Linked DNA regions of Homo sapiens: region 2 is linked to region 1. Evidence: fine-mapped expression QTL. A gene starts in region 1. The other region holds a variant in brackets. All regions are shown on one strand. Distances are between the middles of the regions. Region 1 holds the start of KCNMB3 (potassium calcium-activated channel subfamily M regulatory beta subunit 3). Region 2 has its middle 21 kb from the start of KCNMB3.

What was found. PIP is the estimated chance that this variant, and not a neighbour inherited with it, causes the effect.
Region 2: its variant is the best candidate, but not a certain one, in a credible set for the expression of KCNMB3 in B cells (Fairfax 2012, PIP 0.63).

The regions. Positions count from the first base shown.
Region 1 is chr3:179,249,861-179,252,779 of GRCh38, forward strand. It overlaps KCNMB3 (potassium calcium-activated channel subfamily M regulatory beta subunit 3), which reads right to left and starts at 1,254. Exons shown (of 3, transcript NM_171830.2): 1 at 883-1,254. The coding sequence starts at 1,130.
Region 2 is chr3:179,270,262-179,273,180 of GRCh38, forward strand. No RefSeq gene overlaps it. Among named protein-coding and RNA genes, the nearest start is that of KCNMB3, 21 kb to the left of the region's middle. The variant C/T (reference allele first, on the strand shown) is at 1,372.

The sequences.
Region 1 (2,919 bases):
AACACACACTGGGGCCTCTCAGTGGAGTAGGGGGAGGGAGAGCATCAGGAAGAATAGCTAATGCATGCTGGGCTTAATACCCAGGTGATGGGTTGATCTGTGCTGCAAACCACCATGGCACACGTTTACCTTTGTAACAAACCTGCACATTCTGTACATGTACCCCGGAACTTAAAACAAAAATTGAAGAAAAAAAATCATAAGGAAGAGAAAACATGTTTACTATTTACTAAATGGAAGTGGATCATCATAAAGGTCCTCTCCCTGTCCTCTTCATGTTGAGTAGGCTGAGGAGGAGGAGAAAGAGGAGGGATTGATCTTACTGTCTCAGGGGTGGCAGGCACAGAAGAAAATCCATTTATAAGTGGATTCCCGAAGTTCAAACCCATGTTGTTCAAAGGTCAACTGTATCACTACATATATTGAATAAAGAACCTAATTAAAAGGAAGGAAACTAATATGTATTGAGCAACTACTATGTGCCAGGTAGACACTGTCAAACTCAAAAAATTCAGACTCAAAAAACTTTTATTGTGCTCACATACAAGGTTTAACTCTCTCTTGGAATACCAACATTTTAAGGGGAGGATTTATGACCTAAATGAAGAAACTATAATTTGTGGATTACGTGTTTGGAGGTATATATAGATTATGAGATGGGAGGAGGCAGTGCAGGGAAATATCTTTGACCTTCTCGCCACCTCTTCCTCCACACCCAGCTGCCCCCAGCACTGACAGCGGAAGAGGAATTGTATTTTTCTTTTTCTAGACCATGGCAGAGAGTCACAGATTGAGAAACCAAAGCCAGCCTCTCCTCCTTTACCGCTGTGCCTGGATCTTATCTGAATTGGAAACTCTAGATTTCCTTCCTCTGTTTCTTACCTGAGCATAAAAGGCTTTAGAATGGTTGTTCCGAGCAAGAAGAACATTAGGACTGAGAAGCCCATCATGGCAAACCCCAGCATCACGGCTCGGTCCTCTCCAGCACTGGATGGCAGCCTCTTGTGCACATCTAGTGGGTCTCCATCACTGTAGTCTGTCTCTCTCTTCTTCCCTGAGGCAGGAAAGGCTGTCCTTTGGGGAAAGGGAGAAGGAGATACTGCAGTGAGCTCATAAAGAAGGGGGAACATTTCCAATCCATGGGGACTGGAGGGATAATCTCATTTGCTGCCTACCTGTGTCTCGTGAGCAGGATGAATGCAACAAAATGAAATCCCAGTTCAGAGCTTGGTGAAAAGTCCATCTAAATAAGCTAAAGTGATGTGTAATCAAGTATTTTTAAAGATATTGTAGCAAACAAGCCTAAGAAATGTTGCCTCATGCAAGTCTGTAGAGATCTGTTTAATCAATAACTAGAGAATGTTGTATGTAAATAAGTGTTACGAACTTTGTTATCTTTCAGGGATATTGCACGTCCCTCCTGAAAATTTGTTTACATTCTCCTTTGAATTCCACATGGAAAGAATGACTCAAAAAGTTCACATTTGGAATTAACAGCGTCCTGAACAGGGTTTGACTTATTCTTTCATATTCACCTGTTGGAAAGGCAGCATATCCACCACCAGAATTTCTGGCCACTGCCCAGTCCACTCAGAATTATGAAGTTGTCATGGCTTCTTTGCTCCTCTCACCCTCCTTCTCCTCCTCTCTGGCCACTCATGGTTCTGCATAAGTGTCCCTTCATTTCTTCTCTCCTCTCTCCACTGTGCCTGCAAACCTGCTCCAGCAAAGGATGAGATACATTCTCGCAGGGCAGGGTGTCTGGTGAACAGAAGAGTCCAACACAAAGGTCGCAAACCGGTGGGCATGGCGGCATCCAGCCCACAGATGTGTTTTGTTTGGCCTTCTCTGTCGTTTTTTGTTTTTGTGTTTTTTGGTTTTTTTTGAGACGGAACCTCGCACTGTTGCCCAGGCTGGGTACGATCTCAGTTCACTGCAACCTCCTCCGCCTCCCAGGTTCAAGCGATTCTCCTGCCTCAGCCTCCCTAGTAGCTGGGATTACAGGCGCCGGCCACCATGCCCAGCTAATTTTTGTATTTTAAGTAGAGACAGTGTTTCACCATGTTGGCCATAATGGTCTCGAACGCCTGACCTCATGATCCACCCACCTCAGCCTCCCAAAATGTTGGGATTACAGGCGTGAGCCACTGCACCCGGCCTGGTTTATTATTATTTTTTTAATGTGGGATAACTTGTTAAGACCTTAAAAATCATGACATTTCTCATAAAAATGCTGAGTTCTGACTTTGGAAATAATCCCAAGATGCACGTCCCTGCAGATGAACAGCGGGCCCAGCAGAGCAGTGGCTGCCCCTGTGGAAGGTGTGTTCTCTAGTTTGCCAAAATCCCTCCACTTCCTACAGTGTCACTGATTTGCCATTCCCTGCTCAGTAGCCATTTGAGTTCCAGAAGTATCTCCATTTTAAGAAGCTTAATGAAATCTTAAGCCAAACAAATGCAGCACTAATGGTAGAAACACAGGCTCCATCAAGCTTCCTAAAAGCTTACTGCATTTTAAAGTCAAGCAAAAACCCCATCAAGGAAATTACTGGTTGTTTTTTTCCCACAAGCATAGTTTATGCCTTATCCCACATCCTTCCCCTTCCCTCTCCCTAGCTCCCTTTTCCCCCAGCAACATCTTTAGGTTCTAAAGCGAGTAAAAGGAATGTCAGACAATCCAGAATGTTCCAAGAGCCTGTGCCAGGAAGCACCAACCTCAGAAGGTGGGGCACTCCATGGTTAACACTTCTTTGGGACCCGAGGATCTAGTTTAGGAATTTTTAGTTGTCTTTGATATTTTACTCATCCCCTATCATCCTACCACCAGAGAAGGGGCATGGAAAAAAAATTTAATGAAATTTGAACCTGTACTTTTTTTTTTTTTTTTTTGAGATGGAGTCTCCCTCTGTCACCCAGGCT
Region 2 (2,919 bases), 20 kb after region 1:
AAGCCGGGTGTGGTGGCTCACCACCGTAATCCCAGCACTTTAGGAGGCTGACGCAGGTAGATCTCCTGAAGTCAGGAGTTCGAGACCAGCCTTACCAACATGGTGAAACCCATCTCTACTAAAACTACAAAATTAGCTGGCCATAGTGGCGCATGCCTGTCATCCCAGATACTTGGGAGGCTGACGCAGGAGAATCACTTGAACCCAGGAGGCAGAGATTGCAGTGAGCCACGATCAGATCGTGCCATTGCACTCCAGCCTGGGCAACGAGAGCGAAACTCCATCTCAAGAAAGCAAAACAAAACAAAAAAAGATCTGCCTTTGAGATCCAATAAAGTGTATGAAACCGTAAGTTTGCTTGCAGGAAGCAGGTATCTTCTCTCCTGGAGTGACAATAATGCAAGGATTCCCCCATCAGCTGCTGAGAGGCAGCGCTCACCCAGAAAGAAGAGAATTCAACAACTGCATGCCCAACCCAACTTTCCCTAGACACATAATGATAACTTGGGTGCCCTGAGTAACCATGTGCCAGGGATTGTGCTCAGTGCTATGAGAACATAATGTCCTTCAGACACAGAACTTGAGGAGGTAGGAACTTTTTGCGCATTCAGCAGATGAGGACACAGAAGACCAGAGAGTCCGAGGAACTTGTGCAAAAATCACAAAGTAACAAGGGCTAGGTCCGGGGCTCCAGAACAGATCACATCCAAAAGTCCATGCTTCTACTGACAATATTCGGCCTCCTCGCTCAGGAGGAGCTTGGGCTTATTCTTTTAAGTGTCTTATTCTCAAGGCTTGAAGGAGCCTTAGCCCTTTGCGCCAGGAATGTTGCTGGCCAAGTTGTTATACAGACAGGATGTTCATAGCTTTTTATAAGTCTGCATGTCTTGATCACTTTTAGATAAATTCTATTCCGGATCTGATGAAGCCCCCATTCTTGGCAAGTGATATCTGATCATGAATTTTGATGCATTCCTAAATGTTATAGAATAACCCCTATTAATAAGAACACAAATAACCTGAATTCTTAATCAATTAGAAGTTATTTTATTTTGTTTTTTTTCTGTTTCACTTTCTAAGGAGAAAAAGACAAAGAATAGAAAAATAAATCTATATCCAGTGCTTAATTTTTTTTGTATGTGTGACAGAGTCTCACTCTGTCGCCCAGGCTGGAGTGCAGTGGCGAGATCTCGGCTCACTGCAAGCTCTGCCTCCCGAGTTCATGTCATTCTCCTGCCTCAGCCTCCCGAGTAGCTGGGACTACAGGCGCCAACCACCACGCCCGGCTAATTTTTTGTATTTTGTTTAGTAGAGACAGGGTTTCACCGTGTTAGCCAGGATGGTCTCGATCTCCTGACTTTGTGATTCGCC[C/T]GCCTCGGCCTCCCAAAGTGCTGGGATTACAGGTGTGAGCCACCACACCTGGCCCCAGTGCTTAATTTTTAAAAATAAAATCCCAGGCCAGGTACAGGGGCTCACTCCTGTAATCTCAACATTTTGGGAGGCTGAGGCAGGTGGATCACTTGAGGCCAAGAGTCTGAGACCAGCCTGGCCAACATGGCAAAACCCTGTCTCTACTAAAAATACAAAAATTAGCTAGGTGTGGTGGCACACATCTGTAGTCCCAGCTACTTGGGAGGCTGAGGCACGAGAATCACTTGAACCCAGGAGGTGGAGGTTGCAGTGAGGCAAGATAGCGCCACTGCACTCCAGCCTAGATGACAGAGTGAAGCCCTGTCTCAAAAATAAAAAATAAAAATAAAACAAAATCCCAGGAAAGTCCTTGAGGATTAGTAGTAATTCACATAACTCTGTTGTTTCAGGTAAGACAAATACATGGATAGTATGTTCCCGACCCCATGGCGCACACCTTTGTTAGCTCCTGCTGAGCTTGAAATTTTAGCTCCATGAAGGCCTGAATCTGTGTCTTTTATTTATAACTGTATCACCAGCTCCTGGAATAGTGCTTGGCATGGATGCTCAGTAAATAGCTCCTGGATGATTGAATAAGCTGGACACTACTGCAAAAACTATTCTGTATTCACCACTAAAGGCAGCAACTTCCAACAAATTGGGGTAGGCTTGAAAGATTAAACCATTAGGCTATCCCTGTATAGCTCTTCTATTTATGTCTATAGTCTCTCCACATTGTGAATTAAAATTCAAAATGATGGCTGTGAGGATCTGCAAGATTCCTGCTCACTCTATTCTACAAGCATTTAATGAGCCTCTCATAGTGTAGAGTTCAATTTGACTCAAATATTCCACTTTAGTGGAATATTTAGTGGCGCCTCAAAAGGAACGGTGCCACCTCCTGGTGGGCATTTGGGAATCTGTGGGTGAGGGTGTTTCTTGGTTGTCACCATGATTGGAAGGGCACTGCCAGGTACTTAGGGAGTGGAGAGCTACATGTGGCAGATGTCCTACAGTTTGCAGGGCAGTCCCACACAACAAAGAATTGCCCGAAGTGTGATGGAAATTAATTTCATGTCCACTGCAAATTAATGTAGATGACAGGGCTACTTATTATGATCTGAGTTAAAACCTAATGCCATTTTACATGAAGTACAAAATACCTTGTGTTGAAGTATTTTTTGTGCTTTTTCAATATCCACTGAATTTCCCCAAAATGCATCTACTATGTAAATCGAGAGAAATTTGTACTTTGTTTTATTCAGACATTTCCAAAGTTCTTCACCATTTTAGGAAACCACAACACCATCAGCAAAGCTGTTCATGGTACTTGAGTTTCCAAGGCAATAACACACCCAATACAACCTGTTCCCAGCTGTCACATCCACACTGTCCATATACATGTCAGCAGCTGACCACTTCATTCTATTACTGATGTAGCCATGCTCAAGGATTCACATGAAGAATTAAATATTTAATGAGAAATTACTGGCTGGGCGTGGTGACTCA